2 separate regions of the Homo sapiens genome follow, and region 1 is linked to region 2. Evidence: fine-mapped expression QTL. A gene starts in region 2. The other region holds a variant in brackets. All regions are shown on one strand. Distances are between the middles of the regions.

Region 1 (4,384 bases), 54 kb before region 2:
AGAGGCGCTCAAGCACAGAGGAAAGCTAAGCAGGAAGTGGATGGACTTTCTCATCACCCACCTGTGAACTGGAACAGGCAGAAGAGGCTTCTAGCTGGGAGAATCCCATTCCACAGCTCCTGTGGAAGGGAAGGTCCTTAACCCCCAAAGACCCTTTCCTTTACAGTGTCAAGAACGAGGCCCAAGTGGGCGCCAGTGAGGAAATGTTCCTGCCTTGAGAGGCACTCAAAGGCCATTGGCTGCCTCAGATAACAAAATATTCTTATTCCGAGAGTAACCCACCGTGCTTACCCTGCCTTCGGCTCCCACCAGTCATTTGCTTTTCATTGGAACTTCTGACCCCTGCCTTGCTCTGGAATTTGTGTCCTCCTGGCTTCCAGCTTCCTGGTTTGGGAACTGTTTTGTCTGTCTAGTGCTAACAGTTCCTACCCCATTTCTGACCCTTGTTTCTGCTCTGACCTTGAACATCTGTGTGATTCTTCAGGCCTTTCTCATGTCCCCAGGACTGCCATCTGACCTGGCCTTACCAGTCCAGGGTCTGAAGGAGTTAAGACCCATAACCCTCTGAGCTGGGCAAGTAAGCACTGTTGTGCCCCAGGCTTTGTGAAGGGTTTCACTGCCCCAGAGTGACCACAGTAGTAACCGAGAAGGGCTGGTACTATCTTTCTCCTTGTCTGTGTGAAAACAGGACATACGATAATAGATTTTGCTTTCCATTTCCTTAATGTTTCATGTAACACAAGAAAACAATCTGGTATGTACAGTGGCCAAGAGGCCCCACCATCCATCTGGCTTTTTGTAGGGACACACATAGGCTCATATTTGCTAAACACGCCTCACTGCAGCTATGGAGGAATAGTACAGCCAAACAATGGCATACGAGTTCCACCCACAAACCCTACAGCCCCAGAATGGCTGCGGGAAACAGGACTATCTCCACCTGGAGGCCCAACAAATACAGGAAAAGCTCAGGAGTCCTCAGAAAACCTAGGGCTTTCAGACTCAACTGGCCTAGACCTCTAAATTTAAAAATTACAAAGTGAGACTGGATTAGAGAATTTAGGATTTAGAGGATGGATTAGAACTATTTAAGGTAGTCTCCACCTCCCCTAGTAACATGCCTGCCCACCAAGACTTCCCCATTACCTCTTTGTCTGTAAGAGAATCCACATCTATCATTTTGGTCTGAATTGGAACCAATGTTAGAGGTTCAAAGGTCAGGCTTCCCCGGTTATTAAAATTATACTGCGGGAGAAAGAAGAAAACAGATGCTTTTACTCCTCTTTACTATGCTGAAGCACCATGAGGTCATTCCACCAGCATGCCATCCCTCAGAGCCAGGGGTAACTGGGAGCCAAGAAGTGGTGAGCTGGTCACCACTTTTCACAGACACACAAGGAACCTGATGCCATTTTCCAAGAGCTCCTCCACTGGGCAAACAATGGCCTGTGCCATCAGGAAAGGCCAAACAAAGGGTGCTGAGGGGCTCCCAGCAACAGGTCCCAAGGCTAATGTCTACTGTGATAGGAAACAGGGGCAGGATATGGGGGTATCTGGGCTTAGGGGCATCTCTGGTTTTGGTTCTCCAGGATGCAGGGGTGTAAGTCCTCAAAATCATTTTTATAACAGTCAACTGTGTGGTCTGCCTTGACCCAGCCAGGCCCATCAGGCGACAACACATCTATCCACTGGAGCACACAAGAACATGTCGGGTTTCTGTTCATGGCAGCTTTTGGGAATAAGATGGGAGGTCACTTCCAAGAATAGTGACTTCCATGCCAAAGCAGAGAGCAGATCCCCGCAG[T/A]TAACCTCCTTGTAGACACAGGAAGCTACTTCCCTCCAATTGTTCAATTCCACCAATGGAGGAGGCACAAACAGGTCTTTTAGGTAAAGCCTAGAGCCTAAAACCCTGCAACCTTGGTAACACTGATGGGGGAAGAGGGTGAAACACCTGTCTTGTATTGCCTTTGAGGCTGACCCATGGATAACTCAGGGTTCCTCAACTTTACCTAATAAAAGTCACCTGGGGAGTGTGACAAAATTACAGCTTCCAGGCCCCCCACCCTGGAAATTCTAGGGTCTGGGAGGGGCCCTGGAAATTAGCGCCTTGAATAGGCACCCCTAGCAGAAGAGACAACAGGCCGCCTATAGTAAACTCAGAGCCCCAAATCATGTGAAGCAAGCATCAGCCTGAGGGTCTGTGAATCCCAGTTCTAGATCCCAGTTCATTAAGGATTTTCTTTCTGGCTTTGCAGGGAAGGAGTGTGGTTTCCAGGAAAGTCCCTGATATCTGGAGAAGAAGGCTCCATGTTGGCCCCAGAATGGCATACTCTTGGCTCCAAAGACATTAAGTCTTCATCTTCCCACACTAAGAAACAGGAAAATTTTTAAGCTTTGCGCAGTGGCAGTATTGTAGCCAATGAGGTCTATCCGAGGCGTGATTATTGCTAATAGAAACAGGAAAATTTTTTTAATAAATCCTCACCTTGGTCTTCACAGGAACCACAAGGACAACATTCTCAATGCGAATTCCAAAAGCCCCATCTTCATAGTACCCGGGCTCTAAAACAAACCAAATCCCAAAAATGAGAAGCAGCCCACGATGAAGATGTCTACAGAGAGAAACTTTCACTCCTTGGATGACTGCCCTACTCCAAAGGAGAAGAAACGGGTGAAGAGCCCACTCTATCTGGTGTAAGAGCCTAGAGATGCCACCTTCTCTCATATGGCCACTTTTTTATAGGCACTTGAGGTGCAGAAAGCTAGACTCTGAAGTCCCTGCACACTGGCTACAGGGTAAGGAGTAAAGTAACAGTGGATCCACTAAATAAATCATGGTTCACATCCGTAAGACACAATAATGAAGGCATTAAAATATATTTACAAAGACTTGGCAATGACCTGAGAAAAGGCAATGTATCAAGTAAGAAAGCAGAACATAAGACAAGATGCCCAGTAAGATCTCAATGATTTAAAAAAAAAATGCTATCTACATACCTGAAAGACCAAAAGCTAATACAGTAAAACACTAAGTCATGTTTCCCCTGAGTGGTTAGATTGCAAATGATTTTCATTTTCTTTTTACACAGTTCCCATCTCATTTTTTCTAAAATGAACATGTATCAGTTCTATAATCAGAAAAGTTTGTTGGAAGGGAAAAGTATTGCCAATTTACTTTAAACTAATTAAAAAATACAAAACAACGAATAGCTTTCAAAAAGGCTCAAGGATCCACGCATGCCCTCTATGTGAGGGACACTTACCATCAGTGACAATCATGCCTGCCTCCAAGGGCTCATCAGAGAATGTTTTGTAACTGATGCCGCAAGGACCCTCATGGACATTCAAAAAAGACCCAACACCATGTCCAGTCCCGTGCAAGTAATCTAGGCCTGAATCCCATAAAGCTGAACGGGCAAAGGAGTCAAGAAGGTGACCTGAAAGACATAAAGAGCCACTTAATTGTATTTGTACAGCGCTTTAGAGATTAAATTTATTATGTGTGGCTCCAGAACGTGAAACAGAAACCAATAGGTAAGTTACTGGAGGGTTCAGATTTCAGCACAGCACAAGGAAGAACTTTCTAACAATCAGAGCTCCTGAGAAACCATCAGAGCTCAGTCTGAAGCTAGGCGATCATCCATTCAGGATGCTGGTGAGCGGGGATAGACACCTACAGCACACAGAGGCCGTATCAGACATGGACGTTCCCTTGCCAGCTCTGCGACCCTAAGGTTTCAGAATTACAAAGATGAGACTCTAACCAGACTGCAAGCAGACAGGCAGGCATGACAGATGAGGAAACTGAGGCCTAGGGAGATGAGTACATGTCTAATCTACCCAAAAGCAAGGCAGCCCAGGTCTTGTCAATGCCCAGTCCAATGCTCCACCCACCAGGCCTCAAGCAAAGTAGTACATAGCTGAAGTCAGGGTCCCAGTAAAATAAATCCTAAGAATCCCGAAAGGAAGCACTGGCCCAGTACTAAAGGGCAGACAGGAGGCTGCACCAACTTCCACTCAGGCCCTGTGACCTTCATATCTGGTTTGTCCTCTCCTGGGAGCCATCCACATGTGTCATCCAATACCATAAGTGGTCAGGAGAATGGTGCACAGGGGGTACTGGGCCCAATCCTAACCCGGCTCCCTGAGGCCTCTGGGCTCAGTCAGTGGGTTATGGAGACTCACCCCATGAGCACCTGGCTGGGCCTGAAGTGGGATGGGGACCTCACAGTGAAGGAACGACATGTTCTTTCACTCAAACATAGACATATTTGATTCTCAAACAAGAAAAAGAGCCTGCCATGTGACAGAATGCACCACCTACCTTTGGTTCCAGTCGGGAAAACGGCTGCACTCACAGCTATGTGGCCCTTGAGGACATATG
Region 2 (4,384 bases):
ATCCCTCCTTTTGATGGGAACCTTGGTTTTCCTTTTGAGAATGTACCCTCTCCATTTCAGCCCAAGGGGTTCAAAGCAGTCTTATCCAAACACCTAACAGGCTCTGGGACCCAAAGCAGGTCAATCCCTCCCTCTGGCCATAATGATTGGTTCACAGATGAACATGAGAATTAAGGCAGCCCAGTGAGCATCAGATCAGGGACTTCTGCTCCATTAGGAAGGAGGGCTCAACTTCTCTGCTGGGGCTGTCAGCCTAGAACTGTCATAACCTGCCATAAGGAGAAAGTCTCCCTGAGAATGAAGCGGATACTGAATAAATCAGAGCCAAGAGATGATAAAGAGAAGTCTGAAGCCAATGTTGGTGGTGCTCCCGGATTCAGCCACACTAGAAGCCAGCTCAACCCCATTTTAGGTAAATCAATTTGAGTTCAGTTTCCATTACCGAAACTGAAAGAAGTGCTCACTTTTACAAGGAATGGCACTCAAATTCTACCAGTAGGGGAGGCGCCTGTGGAAAATGGCTTCCCCTCTCTCAGCCTTTCACTGGACTTTCCTTTGAGGTAAAAAAGACTCTACCAGCTGGTGTAGAAAAGACTCTTCTGCTCCTAAAAGGCTGTGAGTCTATAAATCTAGCACAGATCACCTTGGCCCCCTAAAGACCACCTGAGGCCTACAGCCTAACTCATCATTATCCACTTGCCTGACTCCATTTCCAGCACTTCACTTACAGGAAGCTCCTTCCAGATGGAAGTTCTCCACCCCTCCCACATACTTCCACAGGGTGGGTCTGGTTTTCTGCTCACCCTTAACAAGCTGTGGCAACGGCAAATCCAGGTCAAGGTAGGTTTGGGACCCCCCTACTCACAAACACAAGCAGGAGCCATGGTCTGTGTTCAGCAAGAAAGCCTGGCCATGCTGCAAAGTGAGTGCATTCATGTCTCAAGTGGTTAGCAGGTGGGTGACCCCTTGGGGATGGCCAGGGAGTCTGGCCTGTGGCCTCCATGAACTCTGAACACCTCTCTCCGTCTCCCACTTTGTCAGAGGCTCTGATAAGTACATCCTGGTTATGGCAGGGGAATAAACTAAAACATGTTTAACTTGAGGCCGGGAAATTATCTGTCTCACCCTCCTATGCCCAAGGAGAGCCCAGGGCAGGCTACTGGGGGGATTTTCCTGGAGATTATACCAAAATATTCCCTTACACAGCCTCTGAAACCATTTGGGTAGGGAGGGGCCCGCGACCGTCTATCCTTGTGGCGGTGACAGATCAGTAGAGTGAATTGCAGGAGTCAGTATTGTCGAGATTGTAACTTGAGGTTTAGATTCCTGGGTAACAGAAGCGAGGGCAAAGGCTCGCCCACCTCCCCGGACACGAAGAGGGGCCAACTTCCTCCAAGAACGGGGCCTTCCCGCGGGCCAGGAACTGTGACGGCCGCCGCCCCCTCAGGCCGAGTGCAGCAGTTCCGCGGGCATACGCGTCCAGGAACCAGACTCGGGCCGCCCCGTGCCCACCGACCCTCCGGAAACGAACCGGATCTCGCCCGGCCTCATGGACCCCTTCCCCCGGCTCCTGTTCCGGGGCTCCGGCGAGCGCGGCCCTCGCCAGACTGCGGCGGGCCGGGCTCCTCACCCGCGCGTCCCTGCCCGCCGAGGTGCAACACGCGCGGCCGCGCAGCGAGGGCTGCACGCTGCCCGGACGCCGGCTGCCGGCGGAGTGCCCTCACCTTACTCGCGGTGGCTTTCTGGAGGCTGCCATTCGGCGGTGACGTGCCCCAGCCCACGTCAGGGGAGCGCAGACCAGCTGATCACCCGCGGAAGGGCCGGCGCGAAGGAGGCGCGAGAGCCGGCGGGCGGGCGGGCGGGCTAGCGCCGGGTCGGCCACGCCCTCGCCCGTGGCGGGCGCTGGCGCCGCGGCCCCGCCCACACGCAGGCCCCGCCCACACTCCCGGACCTGGGGTTCGCGGCCGCAGCGCCTGCGGCCCAGAGCGGGGCCTGCCCTTCCACACCAGTCCGCATTGCCTCTCCCTGCAGCGAGCGGGGAAAGGACGCAGTGCTGCTGAGTGTCTTCATTTTTGTTCGTTTTTGTCGTCATTCCTCAAAGAGGAAAAAGGGCTTTGCCGAATAAAGGGGCTACTGTCCCAGGGATTTTCCGGCTTAATTTAGGAGGGCTGAGAAGAGAGGGACGTGGCCGGCTCCGGAAGAACCTCGACAGGGTCTTCGAGGCTTTGGAACAGGGTCTCAAGCTTTAGAAATGTCCCCAAAAGTATGTTCCCAGAGAGCTTCAAAATCCAGCTCTCCGCTCCGCTTGGATAGTAAATAGCCCCTTCAAACTTAACGTCCAAACGGAACTCCTGGAACTCCCAATGCACCGAAGCAAAGCAAAAACGTTCTCCACCAGTCTTCTTTGCCATCTCAATCAATGGCTACTCTATTCTTAAGAGGCAAAATTTAGGAATCCTCCCTGCCTCTTCTCTTTCACACCCCACATCTAATCTGCCAGCAAAATCTTGTTGGCCCTGCCTCCAAAATAGACCCCTAATCTGGCCGTGTCACACCACCTCCACCTCCTACCCTCTGATGTGCATCAGAGGGTTGTACCACCCCACCCGTGTGGTTACAGCAGCCCCCCAAATATCCCCTCACCATCCCGCACCTGCACAGTCCAGCCTGAACAAAGCCGCCAGACCAGTCCTTTGAAGCGTGACACCAGGTCACTTCTTTGCTCAGCACTTTCCATTAATTTCTCGTTTCACGCAGCATAAAAGCTCCATTTGATCTACCCCCAGCCACATTTCCTCCTGTTCTCACCTTCCTCACTCTTCTTCAGCTGAAATGGCCTCCTGGCTCTCCTTGAAAAAGCAGGGTACACTCATGTCCCAGGGCTTTTGGACTTGCTCATCCCCCAAATATTGAGGCTCCCTTCCTCATTTTCCTTCAAGTCTTCGTTCAAGTATCACCTACCCTGACCATCCTATTTAAATTTGTAAATCATTCCAATATTCCTAATCCGCCTTACCCTACTTCATTTTTTCCATAGCACTTACCACCTTTTAACAGGATTCTTTTAATGTACTTATGTGTACTGTATTCTTCCCCCTCTCCTGCCACCACCCACGCACACAACAAAACCATCAGTGCAGATTGTTTCTGTTTTGTTTAATGATGAACAATATCTAACATGTCATAAGTTCTCATTATATATTTTCTGCAGAAATGAATGTTTCAGAATGTGCACTCCTCAAAAGCAGGGATGGTGGCTCTCTTGTTCATTGTTATTTCCCTGGTGCTTAGAACAACACCTGGCACTAAATGAAAGTGACCACATTTTTTTAAAGGTGAATGGCACCTCCTCCTGCTTTGACCTTGGTGTAAGGCCTAATATACCTGTATCAGCTAGGTTCTGCTACCTGCAAGAACTCAAAGTCGTTATTGAATAAGCATTTAGGCAAGCCGAATTAGACTGTGTAGTTAAAGCATGAAAAAACTAAAGATGTGCTTCCTGGGAAAGCAGCACACATCTGTTGCATTTCCCCAAATTTATGAAGCCAAAAACAGAGAGATTGTAAATAAAATACTGGTTCCAGCCCACATCTGAAAGCTGGTGGGAAAAATCAAGTTATAAGAGAAAACGAGATAAGAGAGAGAGAGATAAGTGAAACTTAAGGGGGACAGGTATTTAATAATCACATTGCCTAAAAGAAAAGGAGTTGGCTCAGAATTTACGGCATCCAGCTTCAGGGGAGAGAGAGAAATACCTTGCATTCCCTGAGCTGGATTTGAGTTCCTGTTTGCAAGATAAAAAAAGGAACCCTTTCCCCTCTTGAAGTTTTTTTGTTTGTTTGTTTTTTGAGATGGAGTTTTGCTCTTTTTGCCCAGGCTGGAGTACAATGGCACAATCTCAGCTCACTGCAACCTCTGCCTCCCGGCTTCAAGCAATTCTCCTGCCTCAGCCTCCTAAGTAGGTGGGATTACAGGCATGCGCCACCACACCCGGCTAATTTTTTGTATTTAGTAGAGACGGAGTTTCACCATGTTGGTCAGGCTGGTCTTGAACTCCTTGGCCTCGACCTTCCAAAGTGCTGGGATTACAGGCATGACCCACTGTGCCCGGCCTCGCTCTTGAAGTTCTAACAAGAGAACCTCTGGAGAAGTTATAGCACTGAATTACCATGAGAGAATGAGAACACCAGGAGTTATATAGGTTCTTCTCCTGGCTCTACAGTCCTTGCATCCTCAAAGAAGTGGAACAGTCACACTGCCTGACATTCATTGAAGGCTATGTGTCTAACCCACAACAAACCAATGGGTGAAGGACTCTTATCCTCATTTTACTGGTTGAGGAGACTGAAATTTGCAGAGGTTAAGCCCCTTGCCCAAAGTCCCT

Evidence for each region. PIP is the estimated chance that this variant, and not a neighbour inherited with it, causes the effect.
Region 1: its variant is the best candidate, but not a certain one, in a credible set for the expression of XPNPEP1 in whole blood (INTERVAL, PIP 0.59).

What each region holds. Positions count from the first base shown.
Region 1 is chr10:109,867,468-109,871,851 of GRCh38, forward strand. It overlaps XPNPEP1 (X-prolyl aminopeptidase 1), which reads right to left. Exons shown (of 21, transcript NM_020383.4): 17 at 4,325-4,384; 18 at 3,264-3,437; 19 at 2,486-2,562; 20 at 1,147-1,245. It also overlaps the pseudogene RNU4-5P. Among named protein-coding and RNA genes, the nearest start is that of XPNPEP1, 54 kb to the right of the region's middle. The variant T/A (reference allele first, on the strand shown) is at 1,805.
Region 2 is chr10:109,921,678-109,926,061 of GRCh38, forward strand. It overlaps XPNPEP1 (X-prolyl aminopeptidase 1), which reads right to left and starts at 1,834. Exons shown (of 21, transcript NM_020383.4): 1 at 1,725-1,834. The coding sequence starts at 1,756. RefSeq lists a silencer at 1,510-2,049.